3 linked regions of the Homo sapiens genome follow. The protein of the gene in region 3 interacts with the protein of the main gene of each other region in a pairwise test. Each region holds a gene or a part of one and is shown on either strand. Other genes may lie near its edges.

Evidence for each region.
Region 1: the proteins of CCDC172 (region 3) and TEAD4 interact in binary tests that used the Homo sapiens proteins (3 or more experiments, as listed by UniProt).
Region 2: the proteins of CCDC172 (region 3) and SH2D4A interact in binary tests that used the Homo sapiens proteins (3 or more experiments, as listed by UniProt).

The regions. Positions count from the first base shown.
Region 1 is NC_000012.12:3,031,572-3,039,470, reverse strand, and holds part of TEAD4 (transcriptional enhancer factor TEF-3), read right to left. Parts: intron 1,504-7,899; coding exon 1,363-1,503; intron 1-1,362. UniProt on the Homo sapiens protein: Transcription factor which plays a key role in the Hippo signaling pathway, a pathway involved in organ size control and tumor suppression by restricting proliferation and promoting apoptosis.
Region 2 is NC_000008.11:19,330,000-19,337,898, reverse strand, and holds part of SH2D4A (SH2 domain-containing protein 4A), read right to left. Parts: intron 4,945-7,899; coding exon 4,785-4,944; intron 3,214-4,784; coding exon 3,042-3,213; intron 1-3,041. UniProt on the Homo sapiens protein: Inhibits estrogen-induced cell proliferation by competing with PLCG for binding to ESR1, blocking the effect of estrogen on PLCG and repressing estrogen-induced proliferation. May play a role in T-cell development and function.
Region 3 is NC_000010.11:116,376,119-116,381,099, reverse strand, and holds the end of CCDC172 (coiled-coil domain-containing protein 172), read right to left. Parts: intron 2,678-4,981; coding exon 2,590-2,677; intron 1,778-2,589; coding exon 1,742-1,777; 3' UTR 1,071-1,741; downstream 1-1,070.

The sequences.
Region 1 (7,899 bases), on a different chromosome or scaffold from region 3:
CAAGCGCACATAGGAGTGCCGATAAAACTGGTGAAATCTGAACCAGCTTGGTGGACTGCATCAACGTCAATTTCCTGGTTGTCCACTTTACACTCTAGTTATGCAAGATATGGCCAGGGCAAGAGCTGGGTAAAGCGCACATGGGATTATGAGCCCAAGTGGATCCACCATTATCTCAAAAGTTTTACAAGTTTAATTAGAAATAAATAATTTGAGGAACTTTTTAAAAACCACTAATGCCTGGACTCTACCCTAGAGACTGAGGGGTGATGAATGGGTTTCAGGCACTGGTGTGTTTCCAAAGCTCCCAGGAGACTGCAAGGTGCAGCCAGGCGGAGAAGCACTGTGTGGAGTAATGTCTCCTCCCTGGTGCTGGCCGGGCATCTGGCTGCATTTGGCATGAGGAAGGCTATCAATAACTGACAGACTGTGAGAGTAGGACTTCATTAATTCAGACCAATCTGGGGAAGGGGTGAGGAGAGGGACGAAGACTGGCCTGCACGGTGAGGAGGTTTAACAAGTGTGTGGGCGGCACAGGGCCCCGGACTCTCAGAGTCCACAGGTGCTTTGGGTTGGAGGCCTTCAGTCCCAGCTCCTTGTCACTGCCACTACGCAGCGGGCCCAGAACACAGGGTGCTGCAGGAGACCGTGTCACGGACAGTGAAGATAACTTGGCCCTTGTTTAGGGCCAAAATACAGAGGATTTTATCACAACCCCCCAGACACGCACCGGAAAGCAGGGTGCCTGGGTGGGGATTCACCTGCGCTTATGCTCCTCACCACTGCCCTGCACTGCCCTTGGCCGGGGGTTTAGCAGAGTGGGAGAAACCATAAAAGGCAGGCCTGAATTTTCTGTAACTTCCATTAGAGCAGGGTCTCCAGGGTACCCATAAGCAGAAAATCAGGGAAGGAACAGTTTTAGGCATTCATGGAGTTCAAAGTGAGCAGGGGACAGAGATCTTAGCCCTGCTTCTGCACTAATGAGCTGTGTGACCATGTGCGGGCGATTGGTGGGAGGCCTCCGCTCTCTCTGGGCCTCCACTGTGAAGCCAGAGGGCTGGACTAGGTAGATGCCCAGGGCTCTGCCTGTGCTGCGGCTCTGCTCTTGGAGAGGACCGGGGGTGCCTGCAAGGACGTGCTTGGAAGATCCTGAAAGGGCAGCAATGGCTCTGGTTAGCTGGGCAGGACACTGGTGCCAAGGGGAGTGTGGGAGGCACACAGCACTGACAGCAGACAGGGAAGGCAACAAGGGATTATCCTGGCTCCCTAACGGAGGGCATTCCTCCTGAAAGCAAATGGAAGCCATGCCCAGCAAACACAGACCACTGCCACCGGCCCTCACCCGCCAGGGTGGCCTCCTACCTCAACTTTCTCCACCACCTGCTTGCCGAAAGAGCAGACCTTCGTGGAGCAGGTGATGATCATGTTCTCGGGGCTCTCATACTGGCTGGAGACCCCATAGAAGGAGCTGCCTTCATCCTCGATGTTGGTGTTGAGGTCTGCCTGGAGGGAGACAGTGGGAAGGCGAGGGAGTGTCAGCAGGTGCCATGTCAGACGGGAGCATCAAGGAGACCTCAGGGTCCCGGTCCCGGCTCTAGGGCTGGGAAGAAATCAGACTGAGGGTAGACAGTAGGACGCCAGAAAGCTTCCACATTCCTCTACATCTCTGCCTGGTACAAAATCAGGTCGTGTTGCCTAAATCATGGGAAAAGAGGACACTGGGACCCACACAGTTTCAGGCCACTGCTGCCTGCCCAGATATTAACACACCCAGCAGGTGGGAGCCCCAGATTCCATCTTTAAGATTTCAAGTTTCATAGTCTAAGACTTTGTTCTTGTTAAACTGCAAAGGTTTGAATCTCTACCAGTCAGCTCTATTTTAGTTTGAATGCGTCTATCAGAATTATTCCAGAGTCAATTTTGATAGTGCAGGAAGCATGAGAACAGAAAACCAGGGCAAGAGACCGGCAGTGGGGAGGGTGGAAGGGGTGAATGCTGCTCCTGTCTCATCCTCTTGTCTCGCCAGAGACCTGATCGATGCTCCCTCAGAAACGGCTCTGGGGCTGGCCTCTTCCCCCTCTAGGCACTGCTGGGTCCCGTCACCTTGGATCTTTTGACATCTCTGCTTCAGCCTCCAGAGCAATCTCCCCAGCACCAGCTGTCCCTCCCTTTGGTTCATTCTCTTAACTGCCCCGGGAATCTCTTCAGAAGTCAAGTCACTTCACCGTCTCATTGAGCCATTTAGCCACAAGGGACAGGAGTCTTGGTCCCCGGCCTGGCTCACAAGGCCCTTCACAGGCCCAGACACTGGTCCTCTAGGTCAGCTTCTCACCTTGCCTCAGACAGGCTGCTCTTCCTTCCCCTGATGAAAACAGAGCCCAGGGGGCCTCCTGCTGGATGTGGGGCTGATCTGAAACTTCCCTTCTAGAAAAGGCGGAGTAAGACTCTGTGCTGATCTCACACCCAAAACCACGGCCTCGGTTTTATCCATGAGGGGTCCTGACTGTTAGCCTTGCCCAACACCATCCAACTAGTAAGTGAAAGACCCCAGGTCTTCAGCCTCCAACCCCAATACTTGTCCCAAACCAGCAGAGTGCCACAGCGAAGAAAGGAAGGCACCAGATGAGACAATTTGGTGCTTTGGGGACTCTGAGGCAGGAATTGTATTCCTGAAGCCCTACGCCTTAGGGGTCCCCATGCCCAGAACTCCAGCCCCACATCAAATCACCCCATCTGAGCCAGGGGTGCTAAGAGAACAAGTCAAGACTCAGAAACAACGCACAGGCACATTACAAAGGCTTATTCTCAGGGGAGGCCGCTCCTCCCACCCACACCCCGGTCTGAAATCACTGCAAGCTGTGCCCAGAGCGCAGCCCTACGAATGCAGTAAAGCGTCAGGCCTTGGTCAAGGTTCTGACACCAAGGACTCTTCTGTGCAAAGATAAGGGGATCCCTAGAACCCCAGGAAGGTTTTGGTCAGATTCAGAGCCAGGCACCAAGCAATTCTACTACTGGCCATGAGGGGACACTCAATCGTTATTTTTCTCTCCTTTGGAGAAGTTTTCCCAGAGCAGGACCTTTCTCTAGACTGGCGGTGGGTGTTGATTGTCTATAGCACAATAGAAACATTATGTAGCCACAAAAAAACGCTGAGAAGGACCTGCATTTATTATCATGGATGACTACAAACACACTGAGTGGGAAAGCAGGCTACGGAGCAGAATGAGGGTGGATTACGTTTATGATGAGGAAAAAAAGGCTGTTTTCATGCTGAAACAGAATGGCATATGGTTCAGTGCACCTGCCTCGGCTTTGATGAGGCCTTTAGGGAAAAAAAGCATTCGTGTCAATGCTCAGCCTCTGAAACAGACAGCAGCATTTATCCTAAACACCCTCCACTACCACCCCTGAGCTGGCCTCAGTCTCCCCACTCTGTCTCCATCTGTGATGCTGGGAGGGAGGGGATGACACATTGTAGGCAGGGTGCCCAGGATGGCATGGCAGAGGTGGCTGAGGCCTCTGCCGGACTAGATTTAACTGTGGCTGTGACTGGCCGAAGGTCTTACAGGCAAATATAAGGTGAATGGGACCAGAACCCAGGCTTTCGGGCTCCTGTTTTCTTCTTCTTCTTCTTTTTTTTTTTTTTTGTTAAAGACAGAATCTTGTTCTGTCACTCAGGCTGGAGTACAGTGGTATGATCACGGCTCACTGCAGCCTCGAACTCCTGGATTCAAGCAGTCTTCCCACCTCAGCCTCCTGAGTAGCCAGGATTATAGGCATGTGCCACCACACCTGGCTAATTTTTAAATTTTTTGTAGAGGCAGGGTCTCGCTGTTTCCTAGGCTGGTCTCAAACTCTTGACCTCAAGTGATCCTCTCACCTTGGCCTCCCAAAGTGTTGGGATTGCAGGTGTGAACCACTGCACCTGGCCTGTCTCCTATTTTCTCGAAGTCACCTGCTCCTCCTAGGAGACTGACTTTGTCAGACTGTTCCTAAAAAGGGCCTGGGGGACAGTTTGTGTGCTCAGGACATATTCTGTAGCTGGAAGCACAGGGCAAAAATGTGAACAATGCCTGAAATGCCGCTGGCAGGAAGCCCAGCTGCCTGGGAAGGATGCACTGGACATGGTGGGGAACACCAAGAGGTGAGGCCAGGCATCAATGGTGGTGACCCTCAGATTTTAACCGCGCATGGTCCCTCTGATCAATGCCACATTCATGTGCCATCTACGACACATCCTGATTCTTTGAAATCAACTCACTTTTATTCCTTAATTCCATTCTAAGCAATAAATCCATGAAATCAAGGATTCTATTCTTTCTAATATATATGAAAATAACTATATAACTATTTTTTTAATTTTATTTTTTGAGACGGAATCTCGCTCTGTCGCCTGGGCTGGAGTGTGGTGGTGCAATCTCAGCTCACTGCAACCTTCGCCTGCCGGGTTCAAGTGATTCTTCTGCCTCAGCCTCCTGAGTAGCTGAGATTACAGGTGCCCACCACCACGCTCGGCTAGTTTTTGTATTTTTTTTTTTTAGTAGAGGTGGGGTTTCACCATATCGGCCAGGCTGGTCACGAACTCCTGGCCTCAAGTGATCCACCTGCCTCGGCCTCCCAAAGTGTTGGGATTATAGGCGTGAGCCACCGCGTCTGGCCTATAACTATTTTCCATATTTTCAAATAAAGTTATTTTAAAACACAGGGATAGGGCTTCGCCATGTTGCCCAGGCTGGTCTCGAACTCCTGGGCTCAAGTGATCCTCCTGCCTCAGCTTCCCAAAGTGGGGGGATTACAAGAATGAGCCACTGAGCCTGGGCAACTACTTAACTATTTAAAAAAATGCATATTCACGTGCCATCTTAGAAGAATCCAGTGTGCCAAGCTGGGAAGGACTGGCATCCACACCTCCCAGCTCTTCCAGACACACAGAGGCAGCGGCTGCCCCCAGCCCCCAGGAGCAATTGGCAGATCCCCCTCTATTACCCTGCTTGTCATAATCTGTCCAGATGTCCTTGCCCCCTTCCAGATACGATGCTCCCTGGAGGCAAGAACTAAGCTCTCCCAGGGCCTTAGTAGGGTGGGCCTTCAATCAAGGTTGCAGGCGGCTGTTCACCCTCTCACCTCCGGGTGGCACCAGTGGGAAGAGCAAGGTCCCTCAGGCGCAAGCAGGAACCTACCCTGTCCTGCTCACCCTGAGAGTTCTGCGCCCCAGCTCCACCCCCATCTCAGATACACTCTTCTGTCATCAGCTCCCACTCCCTGGCTCTTCCCATCGCTCAGGTGCCCATTTGTCCAGCCCAGGCCAGCAGTGCTAGAGGCAGGGGGGCCCAGAGAGGTTGAGACATTGTTTCTGCTCTCAGGGAATTTATAATCGGGAGAACAAATAGAATGCAAGTGCTAGGGTTGAGCAATGGGTCAGGGGGAGAAAGAGAGATCCCACAATCAGCCCCAGAACTCATGTTCACACTGCATAAACCCGGAACACACCAGCCGGCGACACGGACGAACCGCCCCAGAGCACCTCGACTCGTCCTCAGTGCCTGGATCCTTCTAATTACAGCCTCACCCCTTCTCCTGCAGCTATACTCCTTCCTGACATTTCCTGTCCACCCTCATATCCCCCCACACTGAGCAACCACCCAAAACAAGCTACGCTTCTTGGCCTAAGAAAAAATGAGAGCTGCCCCGGTCCCCTGCCCTGTGAGTGCCCCCTTGCAACCCTCCCTCCGCCCTATTCATAGCTGTGCGTGCGGGTGGGCAGCTGTGCCTGGAACAGGTGTGGGGGATCGGGTGACTGACAGATGAGCAGAGACAGCCGCAGCCCGGGTGTGGGGGCCTGGAGGGGCTCAGATTCATTGTCATGTGCTGGTATGTGCCTGGGAGAAATGTCAGGGACTGAAAGGGAAGAGCAGGCTGAGATGGGAGGAAGGCCTGGGGTACTCTGCTGCCTCCACGGTGCAGCCCGGCTCTGCCTGGCATTTCCAATGTGCAGAGCGGCGTTAATGGCCACCAAAGGCCCCCTCTCACCGGCCCCAGAGACAGGTGGCCTCTGCTGGACTTGCGGGGCTCTGGGGGAGGAAGGGAGCTTCATCGCATCAGTCCCTCGCTCCAGGCCCCGTGGCGCTCAGCAGATAGGGCTGAGGCTGTGCACAGCCCTAGCAGCCTCAGCCCTTCAGGCTGGCAGATGCCACTTCTAGCTGGAAATGTGTCCCAGCAGTCCGAGAGTCTATGAATGACCACCACAGCGCCCTCAGTAAGAGCAGTAACTCAGGGGACAGGCAGGGAGGCTGGACTGGAGACGGACAAGTCCTCCTCCCACTCCAAGGGGGTTCTGATTGCCTCTCCAGCACACACATTCAGGGCCTGGGAGCCAGGACTGAGAAAACAGCCAGGCAGGAAAAGAAAGGCTCCGGGAGAGGCGACACCGTTTCCTTGCCTGAGCAGTTTTCCTTCCTAACTGTGTGTGGCCAAGTTCACACCAGCTGATGGAGGGGGAAGGCGGGACCAGGCCAGGGAGCAGAAGACAGGAGCTTCCCGATGCGGGGGGAGCCGGGGCAGCCTGTGAGGACCCACGATTGACGCAAAGTCTCATTGTCAGCAAACACGAATATGTACCTTTCCCCGTCACATATGTGTCTTCCTCTGGTGCCTCTGCCCGCCCCACACATGCGGAGGAGGGAGCAGATGACCGCCAAGGTGCCCTGGCCTCCGGCGCTCCCTCATCTCTGATTTCACCTGCCCAGGCCGCTGGCACTCAGAGGGCTCAGGCAAGGGGTGGGGCAAGGGCAGGCCACAGCCCCCCACTCAGTACCAGCCGGCCACATACACGGGGTCTTCAGCGACACAGCCCCTGGCAGGTCCCCAAGATCAAACTGCTGACTATTCACACAAAGAAGCAGAGGCACAGAGAAGCCAATATTTGCCCAGGACACAGTTCTCAAGTGGTAGAACTGAGACTCTGCCCCAGCTGGGGCCAACTGCTGCCCACCGTGCCCTGCCATGACACATCAGAAGGGCCTTGCTGGGGGGCACACCACAGCCCCCTGTCCAGCGGCTCCTGTCCCAGGACCCCGAGACTCGCGCTGGATCCTCCCATCCAGAGTGCGAGCTCCTGGAAGCCGAGGGCCGCGCTGGGTCCGTACAGCACACGGCTGGAGCACACGGTCCACAAGGGAACCTGCTGAATCCCATGTCTTTGGCACCAGCTGTCCCAACCCTCTCTTCTCCCATCAACCCCCACCTCCAAACTCCCCTAAGAGTCAGAAAGAAAGAGAGGACACAGGCCACTACCAAGTTTGGAAAAGTACCTTCTAGGTCCTCCTTCCTTCCTGGCAACCTTAGTCTCCACGCAGGGCCACTGCCCTATTTTCTGGAAGGGATATCTGAGGTCGAGAACGCCCAAGAAGCCCAAGGGGCTGGCTCTACATTGACTGCACAGAGCTAAGTCTGCTCTCCCCACGCTGCCACTGCCTGCTGTTCCTCAGGGGGCTGGGGATCTGTTTTAGACAATTCAGAGCCTTCTCCAGTGGGAGCAGGAGAAGCTCCAGGATGCTGCATGGAGGGCAGCCAGTGACTTCGCAAGGAGGACTGTTTAGTATGGTGGCTCCAAGCACACACCCTGGGGTCAGGCTGCTCAGGTATGGACCCGTGGTCTGGTATGGGTCTGGTACTATGAACTGGGCAACCTTTGGCAGGTGATTCTACCTGTCTGTACCTCAGTTTCCCCTCTGCAGATGAGGTTATCCAGTCTTGGCTGTGGTGAGGATGAGACGTGTGACTGTATGTAACGTGGTGAGAAGAGTGCAGCTGTCATCTCTCTCAGTCTATCTGGGCCCATCTATCTCACAGCATGTATCCAACAGGAGTGCCCACAGGACAGAGGTCACCCTGGCTGGG
Region 2 (7,899 bases), on a different chromosome or scaffold from region 3:
TTGGCTGTGTCCCCACCCAAATCTCATCTTGAATTGTAACTCCCACAATTCCCATGTGTTGTGGGAGGAACCTGGTGGGAGGCAGTTAAATCATGGGGGTGGGTCTTTCCCATGGTGTTCTTGTGATAGTGAGTGGGTCTCATGAGATCTGATGGTTTTATAAATGGGAATTTCCCTGCGCAAGCTCTCTTGTCTGCTGCCATGTTAGACGTGCCTTTCACCTTCCACAGTGATTGTGAGGCCTCCCCAGCTACATGGAACTGTAAGTCCATTAAACCTCTTTGTTTTGTAAACTGCCCAATCTTGGGTATGTCTTTATCAGCAGCATGAAAACAGACTAGTACACTCTCTCTCACATTTTCCTTGGCTCTCCTCTTATAAGGACACTTGTCTTGGGATTTAGGATCCACCCTAAATCCAGGGTGATCTCATCTTGAGATCCTTTACTTTAATTACATCTGCAAAGATCTATTTCCAAATAAGCTCACATTCTGAGGTTCTAGGTGGACATAAATTTCGGGGGATAAATATTCAGACCACTATAGTGACATATACACAACTTACAATAAAAATATAAATGTACCATCGAGTCAGTTGTCTGAGAGGTAGCAGACGACCTCTTTAAAGGCTCACACTAGCTGTGAAATCAGGCTCCTCGCTGTGTGGCCTGCTGTCAGAGTGAACTTCAGCAAATACCACAGGAGCCCCTGACAGCATCTTCTCTGACACAGGGAAAGATAAAAAGCAGGAATATAAAAACCTGTCACCCATCTATTTCCATATTCCTTCTATCTGAATATTTCTTTCTCCCCTGCCCCCATCTCTTTCCATATGTCAGTTTAGCAGGCACCTAAGGAAGGCAACAGTGCCACTCTCAATATAATATTTATGAGATGGTTAAAGAATAATAACTGTGGTATCTATTTTAATTTCCATTTTAATCTTTTGTCCTACTTTTGAAAAAAAAAGGTCTAAAAAAGTACTGTAATTCAAGCACAAATATAAGCATACATACTTAATACTTTTTTTTAAGACTTAGGGTCTCACTTGGTCCCCCAGGCTACAGTACAGTGGTGTAATCAGGACTCACTGCAGCCTCAAATTCCTGGGCTCAATCGATCCTCCTGCCTCAGCCTCCTGAGTTGCTAGGACTACAGGCATGCACCACCATGCTTGGCTGTTTTTTTTTAATTTTTTGTAGAGATGGGGGTCTCACTGTCTCTGCAGGATTATGCCCAGGCTTGTCTGGAACTCCTGGCCTCAAAAGGGATCCTCCTGCCTCGGCCTCCAAAAGCACTGAGATTACAAGTGTGAGCAAACACACTCAGCTGCATAATTAATACTCTGGAAGGAGCTTTCTTGTTATTACTGTTGTTCTTGGTTGGAGGGGTGTGGGAAGGGGAGCCGTGTTGGGGGAGTTTAGTGTTACACATGCTGAGTGCAAAGCACACCTGGGGAGGACGGGAGGCCTCAATGAGGATGTGGGGAGCATGTCCAGGGCTGACCTTGAGATGAAAAACCAAATTTAGAATTTTCTCTTCCTAAATATTTTGAGCCTCATATTTGTAGCCCTTCATAAAAAGCTTCTTCATAGCCCTCATATTAATGACACAACCAAACATGAGAGTTAAGAATTAAGGAGTTAGTAGTTAATATTTAAGGAATAGCCTGGGGGTCCTGCAGACCTGGGTTTGAATAAGACCTTGGGCAGGTTGCTTAACCACACCTAGCCTCAGTTTCCCCAGCTGTAAAATGGACAAATGTCTCTAGTTCATGTTATTGTGAGGATTACATGAGACACTCAGCAGTGTGCTTTGCTGTGGAATAACCCCTGACCATGTTAGTTATCAGAGTCTCACTAGGTCCTAGGAGGAGGCAGGAGATACCTGTATTCCCATATGATAGCCTCAAAGAAGTCAAAAGCACACACAGCCAGTGCTGCAGGGCTGGAGACATAAATGGAAATCAAACAACTGCAAATCCCTGTTAATTCTCAGTGTAATTAAATTCCTGGTAGAATAATAAGGTGTTTCATTGTTCTCCCAAACTATAATCCAACCAGCAAATTATGTTTGAGTTTTTTAAACCATCTGAACCATAAGAGAATTCATACCAATTCTGAGTATAAAATTTCTATTATGTTGGGGAGGTAACTGTCCCCAAGTCACAGGCAGAGCCAATGAAGCCCAACAGGCACTGATGTTTAGAATCCGCAACAAAAAGGCTAAGACTCAGTAGAATGTAATCTAAATCATGAACAGGCCAAATCTGCCCCTCAGCCTGTGCTTGAAAATAAAGTTTTATTGGAACACAGCCATGCTCATTCATTTGTGTATAGCTGTGACAAAGATGGCATGGCCCATAAAGCCTAAACCATTTACTATGTTGCACTTTACAGAAAATGTTTGCCAACCTCTGCTGTAACAGAAGACATATAATGGGGCAGCATTGAGGAGAACCTGAAAATATCTTAAAATGCCAAATTGCATTCCTAGCGTTCTTGTTACTTTCAGTCTCATGAAATAGGGGTGCTTTATTTTCCATGATGTAGCATGGAAGGTAAATCCCCCAAGTGACATGAGCAAGAGGATCTTTTTTTTTTTGAGATGGAGTCTCGCTCTGTCGCCCAGGCTGGAGTGCTGGAGTGCAGTGTCGCAATCTCGGCTCACTGCAAGCTCCACCTCCCAGGTTCACGCCGTTCTCCTGCCTCAGCCTCCCGAGTAGCTGGGACTGCAGGCGCCCGCCACCACGCCCAGCTAATTTTTTTTTTTGTATTTTTAGTAGACACGGGGTTTCACCGTGTTAGCCAGGATGGTCTCGATCTCCTGACCTCGTGATCCGCCCGCCTTGGCCTCCCAAAGTGCTGGGATTACAGGCATGAGCCACCGTGCCTGCCCTGGAGGATCTTAAAGTTAGGAGGCATTTCTCCCAAGAAAGCCACTGGAGGATCCTGACACTCAGCCACAGTAGTCTCTGTGGCCTCAATAGCTTTTTCTCCCCCATGATGAAATTCCGCACGTCTACAGACAGTAAGGACTCACTCGGATTTTCTCTTCTTCCAGGGTTGGTGCTGGCCTCGATCCTTGCTCCAGTTCCTCCTTTTCTGCCACTTTCTTCCAGATGTCTTTAGTCTGCTGGTTATCCGGAGCCTGCAGATCATGGTACTGTGATTTTGTTTTCAAGCTATTGGTGAATTCTTCAGAGTGAGTTTTTCTGAAGAGAGGCAAAAGTGAAATTCTCAAAAAACATTCTTCAACAGGAAGAGCCTTTCCAAAGCATATGTCGACATTCAAATTATGTGAAAAACAGTAACTGACACCACTTACTGAGTGCTTCTAACATGCTGGGCCCTTTGCTAGGTGTGTAAAGACGTTAACTTCATCCTCATCACAACCCTGTGAGGAAGGCATTGTCATCCTCACTTTGTTATAAGAGCTCCAAGAAATTTTGTAATTCATCCAAGACCACATAGTGGTACAGCCAAGATCTGAACCCTGGTCTGCTCAACTCCTGGTTTAGAAGTTAACCTATTAGAACCACACCGTCTGCTTCCAATCGATGATTAAATAATTCCTTTATCTTCATATGTCCATGGATAGTTTTAAAGTTACAGGCACTAGTGGGCAGCATCCCAGCCCTTGAAAGTCCAATGCACCATCCACTGTGCCACAGAGTCTGCTTTGCATCCCTAGCCCTTGGGAACTGAACGGTGGTCCTCATGTCTGTCCCAATTTCCACTTCACCACCTCAGGGTAAGGCTGTCAACATCACTGCCCAGAGCCAGAGGAGGACACCCAGAGCACCCCAGGTACCCAGCAGAGGAGCGCCATCACCTGCCTCAGTTTCCCTCCGAGTTACCTTCCTACATCTGCAGTTGATGTCACTTCCCTATTGAAAAACCTCACCGTCCAGAGAATAAGTTCCAAACTCCTAAATCTGGCCTCTGAAGCAGTTGTCCAAGTGTATTCCAAATGCTCAGAAGACCTCATCATTCCCCAAAGAACCATCCGTAGTCAAGTCTAGGGATCTTGGTTAAGCCCTCTGCCTGCACTTTCCTTCCTGGCCTTCTGTAGCTGGAAAACCACTCCTTTCAAGGTTTGGTTCAGATTTCACCTCGTCTGTGGATCAGAATGATAGGTTCCCACCTATGCTTGGTAAACTTTCTGTTTGTACCTTAATTATAGCACAAATCACAGCCTGCACTGGCCGCAGTGAGCTGTGCATATGTCTACTTCTCCTCCTAGACTGGAAGCTCCCTGTTTCTCTTTGAATTCCCAGTACCTTGCACTGGGTAGGCACCTAAAGAGCCTGATTATCCAGCCGCCTGTATCTAAGTGATCTCCTTGGAAGGCCTGAAGCTTGCACAGTCACTGCATTTCTCACATATGTTCCTGATACTCAGCTGCGTCGGCCTGCATTGCTCTAACATGACTCTAGTGCAGCCACGGGTGATCACTGGGGAACTCATACACTCATACAGATCAAAACTGGAATGACAAGCAGGGAGATGAAGCAGCTGATTTGACAGCACTAAAGATTTTCATGAGGTCTTTAGTGCTATCAAAGACTTTAGATCAAAAGTCTAAATCAACCTTCTAAAGAGATCCAAAAGGTCTTTAGACCAAAAGTCTAAATCAACCTTCCAAAGAGATCCAAAGTGACTTTTGTGACCCTCCAACCCAACCCTACTCTCCCACCTGATACTGTGAGCAAGAGGTGTGTTTGCAATGTTTTCTAAAGTCTGGAGAGTCTTTAAGTCTCTGGTTGGTTTGCAGATCTCATACCTGGGCTCTTCTGCCTCCTGTTCTGCTTTCAGCCGGGCCCTCTCAGCAATAATTTCATTACAGAGCACATCATAGGGTTTATCTAGATGGTGTTCGCCCATCACCCATACCCAGACTTCCTTATCAGCTCCAAGTTTCCAATGAACCGATTTGCCATTCTCTGCAAACAAACACACAAACAAAAAATTCAGATTGAACAAATATCTTTAGTCACAGATTACTGTTTCCATCACTAAAGTATTTTGGGTCTTTGAAAATATATATATATATATCAGATGAGACAAAGAACTTCCAACTGCTCAGGAACATCTGTAGGTAGCAATGGCAGTGGTGGCAGTGAGAGGCAGCTTCAGTGAAAATATTTGTTTTAAAAATATTAGGGGTATGTTTTTTGCCCGTGCTTTTTTTTTTTTTTTTTTTTTTGACAGTCTCACACTGTTGCCCAGGCTGGAGTGCAGTGGCATGATCTTGGCTCACTGCAACCTCCGCCTCTGGGTTCAAGCCGTTCCCCACCTCAGCCTCCCAAGTAGCTGGGATTACAGGCACCTGCCACCATGCCCAGCTAATTTTTGTATTTTTAGTAGAGACAGGGTTTCACCATTACAGGCATCTGCCACCACGACCAGCTAATTTTTGTATTTTTAGTAGAGACAGGATTTCACCATCTTGGCCAGGCTGGTCTTGAACTCCTGACCTCGTGATCCACCCACCTCAGCCTGCCAAAGTGCTGGGATTACAGGTGTGAGTCACTGCGCCTGGCTGCATGTGCCTATTTTATAAATGAAGAAACTGAAATGGGAAGCAAGCATTCATTGTTTGCATTATCCTTTAGGGTAACAGAGCTAGCACTTCACACCATAAATTCTTACATCTAACTATCTCCCTGTAACCCAGAATTCCACAGCTGCTCAAGGGTGTGGCATTTGTACTACATTCACAGGCTTCATAGGTGGGTAAAAAGCAGGTTTTATTATTTTATTTATATTGTATTTTATTTGTATTTATTATTTTATTTTAGAAATGGTGTCTTGCTCTGTCACTCAGGCTGGAGTGCAGTGGTGAGCTCATAGTAGTTAGGAATGCAGGCATGCATTACCATGCCCAGCTAATTTTTAAAATTTTTTGTAGAGACAGGGCTTTGCTTTGTTGCCCAGGCTGGTCTCAAACTTCTGGCTTCAAGCAATCCTCTTGCCTCAGATAAGGAGGTATTTTAGATTTAGACCACCTTGAGTTCAAATCCTAGCCCTGTCACTTACGAGCTATGTGACTTGGACAACTTTCTTAAACTCTTTAGACTCAATTTCCTCATCTGCAAAATGGGAATACCAATATTTACTACCTAGGGTTGCTGTGGGCAGGCAGGCTACCTGTGCCAAGTTCTTCCCCTAGTGCCTGCCACATAACAGGAGTTCAATAGAGGTTAACTGCTATCATTGCTAGCCTATTATTTACTTATATGGCTGCCTCAGAGATTCACACCAGCCTGTGAGAAGATAATATAACCAGGTAGTATGATACTTGGTGAAGCTACTTAAATAACCCTTGTTTACAATTGGCCTCCAGGTTAGATTATATCCTAGTGCTCCTGAAATGCGGCCACATCGGTCATGCTCCCTTAAACCGGGGGCAGGTGGAGCGTACCTAGGAGAGGCCAACAGAGACCATCCCTGAGTCTGTCAGGCCTACCCAGGGCAACTGTGGGCCAAAGGTGGACCTCTAGTCAAGACCCCAAACTAGCAGTGGTGCTGACTGCATGGAAGAGGGCACCTGGCTGGTGTGTGTGCTGGGCCCTGTTTGATGAGCAAAACATCCACACTGGGATTGTGTCTTGTCCTCTCACACTAAGTCAAAGGAGGTTTCCAATTAAGGTGTCTTCTGTCCAACGTATTCTTGACTTTTGTACTGTGGCCTTGGGATACATTACCAAAGCAGGCTGCTCAAAGCCAGGCTCGTGCTTTCTTTTGACCCTTTCTACCCTTCTTGGTACAGTGGACACTCCTGCAGTATGTTCTAAACAGAGACGCTGGGCAGAGGGAACAGACTCAGACTCTGCACTACCAAAGAATTCCCATTTACTGTTTTCACTGTGGAGAAACAGCAAATGTGGCCTCCAGGTAAGGAGGGGAAGGTCAATCCCACCATGCCCAAATGGGGCTGGGCACCAGTGCCAGCTCCTGGCAAGCTCTTTGTCTGTTTGACATAATGCCAGATGGTTTGTTAACTTTAGAAAGCTGTCATACCTCATAAAACTCCCTTTATTACACTCTCTCAGGCCAACTAATAATATTTTTTTTATGTCAGCCTCTCAGCCTTCACCTAAGTAGTTCTCTGTCGGTATTTTTTTTTTGACAGCAAGAGGAAGATGCCCAGAAAGATGGCAAGTGGCACTGTGCCAGGGGAAGAAAAAGGAAGAGCAGAGGGATTCCAGCACCTCAGCTAGGACAGCCCAGAACAGCTCCAGAACAGCCTCCAGGGGCTACGGGCAGGGCAGGAACTCTTAGGGAAAAGGGGCATTGCTGCAGGTGGGGAGAGAAATCCTAGGACTGCATGTGAGCAGTTGGGGCTTCAAAGCTAAACACAGAGAAGAGAGCAAAGGAGAGGAGCAGAGTCAAGAAAGCTTTAAAGGAGGTAACAGAGAGAACACAGTGACCATAAAGAAGCAGTGGCTCTTGGCAAGAAGAAAGAGAATGAGATGGGAAATGTCAGAGTTAGTGAGATGCTGAAAAACGGGCTCTTGACAGAGTGGCACTGACAATGGTCTCTCTGCTGACTTTTCACCTCTAAGAGCTCTTCAATGAGCTCAGAGAGTGGGGATACTGGAGGAGCTTCAAGTGGTTCCATGAACTCCCTGAAGCTGTAGGAGGAGGGGGAAGTTGTTCTAGTATAATGAGTGTTAGCTGGGATACCCTCGGCTTCACATCAGATGAGGGGATGACTCTCAAGGCCTTCGTAGTAGTTCATTCTACAAGGCAGAAAATGAGTTTTTGCTATTAGCAAGATGTAGAGCTAGATGCTGCAGGTGATACAGGAATGAAAGGGATGAAAGAGATGTGCCCATTCCCCTGCAAGTAACCTAGAGTCTACAAGAGAAGGAGCAAGACATTAGGTGATGCAT
Region 3 (4,981 bases):
GATTTGTTTTTAATTTCCATAGGTTATTGGGGAACAGGTGGTGTTTGGTTACATGAGTAAGTTCTTTAGTGGTGGTTTGTGAGATTTTGGTGCACTCATCACCTGAGCAGTATACACTGCACCCAATTCGTAGTCTTTTATCCCTCACCCCCTTCCTACCCTTTCCCCCTGAGTCCCCAAAGTCCATTGTGTCACTCTTATGCCTTTGCATCCTCATAGCTTAGCTTCCACTTACGAATGAGAGCATACAATGTTTGGTTTTCCATTCCTGAGTTACTTCACTTAGGATACTATTCTCCAATCTCATCCAGGTCACTGTGAATGGCATTAATTCATTCCTTTTTAGGCTGAGTAGTATTCCATCGTATATATATTTCACAGTTTCTTTATGCACTCGTTGACTGATGGGCATTTGGGCTGGTTCCACATTTTTGCAACTGCGAATTGTGCTGCTATAAACATTCATGTGCAAGTATCTTTTTCATATAATGACTTCAGGAGTAGCTATTCTTATATCAGTCAATACACTTTCAGACAATAGACTTTCTGTCTAGTCAGAAATGGTAACGGCAGAAAGATAAGTGATATTGGAAATTTGGTAGCAATACTAAGTATGATCCGATCCTAACTACACTGTTTTCAGTTGCAGTAGTTCAGGTCACCAGAGAAAATGAATCCTGATGGCTGTTAAGGAGATTATGTACCTCATAATCCACTGGGGATTCATATCCCCGTGGATAATTTGTTTCATTATAACCAACACTGGCATTAACCAGAAAATGGCTTCAGGTGCCCCAGACTTCATGGAAACACAGTGAAAAGTAGGAAAACTTTTACAGATGAAGGTCCTCAGAGGAACTCTGTCAACAGACATTTTATGATTAGAGAATAATTAAAATGAAAGCAAGCACCTTTGTTAGTGGAAGTGGCACCAACAAAACTGGGCCAATAAACTGAATGTTTCTTCCTATGTGTGTTTCATTGGACCCAAGGTAAACTACAACAAAAAATGAAAAGTATAGTGTATCAGTCCATTCTCGCATTGCTATGAAGAAATACATGAGACTGGGTAATTTACAAAGAACACAAGTTTAATTGTCCCACGGTTCTGCAGGCTGTACAGGAAGCATAGTGACTTCTGCTTCTAGGGAGGCCTCAGGAAGTTTCCAATCATGACTGAAGGCAAAGGGGGAGTGAGACATCTCATACGGTGGCAGCAGGAGCAAAGTGGAGAAGTGCTATACACTAGTAAACAACTAGCTCTCAGGAGAACTCAAGGACAGTACCAAGAAGAATGGTGCTAAGCTATTCATGAGAAACCCACCCCCATGACCCAATCACCTCCTATCAGGACCCACCTCCAACAGTGGGGATCACAATTCAACATGAGATTTGGGCATGGACACAGATCCAAACCATATTATATAGATTAGAAAGAATAGGACAGCTTGAGGTTCAGGGGCATATAAGAAGCCTGGGAACACGGTATCTACTTCTTCTCCTTTTCCTTCTTTTAGAAACAAAATCAAACCACAGAAGAACTCTTAAAGTTTGAGTAACAAGACAAAAATTATCTTAAAGGGCTAACACATCATTTCTAGATAATAACAATTTGAATATTTTAAACCCCATATTTCCCACAAGGATCCGTTGTAACGGGTACCATTCATATATCTATCACAAAGATTTGATTCTCAGATATTCTGATCAAATCTCAGATGGCTGATCAATTCTCTGTAAGTTATTTGCTTTCCTGAAGATCTTTCTGTGCCAATGTCTGAAAAGAAAACATAGTAATTACTCATGAGGAAAAGTAAATTCTTAATAAAATAATTACATAAAATGTACCTAAATTTAATGACAATAAATTCTGGGCATTTCTTAATTATATTTTTTATAAAAAAAAATAAATTCAAAGGTAACTTATTGAAACATTTTTTGAACAAGAAAATGTTTACCTAAAATATGTAACAACATGCAATGTATCAAATTAAAACTACATTTTAAGATAGTTTAAAGCTATTCATGTCTTTCACTAAAATGTAGTATGGCAAATACTGTGTTCATTTTATAAACAACCAAAGTAAGAGGTTAAAGCAATTTAAAGTGCTCCTACACAATCTGAAAATACATTTCCAACAATTGAATTCAAGGTTTTTGAGATTATACAAATACGCAATAAGAAAGTTTTAGGATCAAATATAATAAAAGTATAATTTATGCCTATCAAAAACAAAAAGCTTTTAAGGCATTATGATAGTTAAATTTCCTTCAGTGCAGTAATCCTCTAATAACAGTTTCAGTCAAGGAAATGTTATGAGGTCAGATCTAAAGTTGCTTTTTTTTAACTTACTTTGAAATCATACATATTCTCTTTGAATATAATTTGCTTCATGTAGCACCTAACTCTCTAGGAACTCAAAACACTTCATAGATTTACATCCTGATCCTAGTTATCTTCATTATTGCTTTTCTGTTTTTTGCAGAGGGATTAAACACTAGTTCAGTGATTTGTACACCAGTAAAACCGTTCCTTACCAGTAGGTAAAATAATGCTGAACAAAAGTTAAACAATCAATGATAACTTACCAACTCCAAAAATTCTATTTCTGTTTGGAGAGCTTCATAAACACTTTCCATGTCATCTTCCTTATAAAGTTCTAATTCTTTTTTAAGTCTATTTTAAAAGAAAATTTCACCTGTTAGTTTAATAATAAACTGTAATTGTATTACTGCACAGAGAGGGACAAGTTTGTAGCTTCTATAATCAGAATTTCAAGTTAAGACTAAATAATTGGCATATTTTAATTATCTATAATTCCATAAAGACTATATAAAATTTTGCGGTAAAACTTTTCATAAAGAAATTAAGGTAGACTGACTAGTAGACATTTAATATTTTTGTTGTTGTTGTTTTTTGAGATGGAGTCTCGCTCTGTCATCCAGGCTGGAGTACAGTGGTGTGATCTCGGCTCACTGCAACCTCTGCTTCCTGGGTTCAAGCGATTCTCCTGCCTCAGCCTCCCAAGTAGCTGGGATTACAGGCGGCTGCCACCACACTCAGCTAATTTTTGTGTTTTTAGTAGAGATGGGGTTTCGCCATGTTGGCTAGGCTGGTCTTAAACTCCTGACATCAAGTGATTCACCTGCCTGAACCTCCCAAAGTGCTGGGATTACAGGTGTTAGCCACCACGCCCAGCTGACATTTAATAATTTTATCATAACTAAAAGAGCAACATGAGCTGGTGGATAAAAAATATATAGTACTATGTCTTAACATCTCTGTTTTAGTCCTGGCCACCAGCAAACTGAATAAGCTTAGTTAAAACATTTAGCTTCTCTGAACCTCACCTGAAAACTTTTAAGTATAGAAAAAAAAATGACCCTTGAGCTCTCTTCTTGATCTAAAAGTAAACTATAACTTTATAATATACACACATAATTAAAATATATCTTAATTTGGGAGTGAGAAAGCAACATCTTTCTTTTCCCCAATTAAGTTTCTTTTCCCCAATTAAGTCTTTAAGTTTTTGAATATTTTGAATTTTTTAACATGAAAAAGCACATACATTTTATTAACGTGCATTGGGAATCACAAAAAAATAGGTTGGTTAGAACTGAAGCGGTTACATTCAGGTTTATTACCCTCTTAATGAAGGAAAGGGGGTTTGGAGTTGTTAAAGTTTATGAGAGACTGTCATTTGAAATGATCAAACCAAAATAGAGTTTCTGGAGCTAGGTGCCATGTAATCTATCTTGAAAATGGGCCAGTTTCCCAAAAAATAGGAGATTCATAGCAACCAATCAAAGGGGCCTTGAACCAACATAAGGCAGTCTCCTCTGAATTATGACTATAAGAAATTAATTTTGAAATGATTCTAGAAAAATCCAATTAAATGTTTATACTGATTTTTTTATTATACTTTAAGTTTTAGGGTACATGTGCACAACGTGCAGGTTTGTTACATATGTATACATGTGCCATGTTGGTGTGCTGCACCCAATAACTCATCTTTTAACATTAGGTATATCTCCTAATGCTATCCCTCCCCTCTCCCCCTACCCCATACTGAATTTTTTTGTATTTTCGGTTTTTCTTTTTTATGAGACTTTAAGGAACTAGACTATATGGAAGTATATGGGTGTAGTAATGGAAGATAAGGGCTATTTTCATTAAAATCTATTTATGCATACTCATCTTGGTATTGGCTCTGTCTTCAATGATAACAGTACCTCCTCTCTCCCTGGAATTAGTGTGTCACCCTTCTCATGCCTTACTTTTAAGCAGATAAAGCCTAAAAGGGTAGAGAATTCTTCCTGTAACTATTGAGTATCAATTGCCAAGATAATCCTTAAGACAATGTGGTATAATTTCAGGGTGGTATATTCTGGTCCCTTTAAAGCAAGGTCAGATAGGCAATAGAAAGAATAACCTTAAACAAAGAGCCAACAATTGTACTAATATCATACAAGTTTGATGATTATAAATGTGCTCTGGAAATTTATTGCCAAATCAGCACAGACTTTGAGGAATTTTTTAAAAATTATTTTATACCTGTATTTAATGTGGAAAATAGTAAAAGTAAGTTTTCCATTTCTGGCATTATGACTAACATTTTTTTCTGAAAAGAAAAACATAAACAAAAGCTAGGAGCTGTGGCTGAAGAGGTAGAAGGCTAGAGCCTGGAATTGGGCAGCTAGGAGGTTAAAGCTGCCCTGAGGGGAGATATGAGGAACAACATTGCTCTCCCAAACCTAAGCAACTCCTGGGCCAGCAACAAAGTGAGAAGTGTAGATCAATTTGAACTTTTGTTGAGCCCTGACCCTCAAGGGAAGCTGAAGGAGTTGTAAGATCAGTGGCATTTCCTGGATGCCAGCAGATGCAAAAGAAAATCTTCTCTATGGCTGCATAGTATTCCATGGTGTATATGTGCCACATTTTCTTTATCCAAATGCCCATCATTGATGGACACTGTGGATG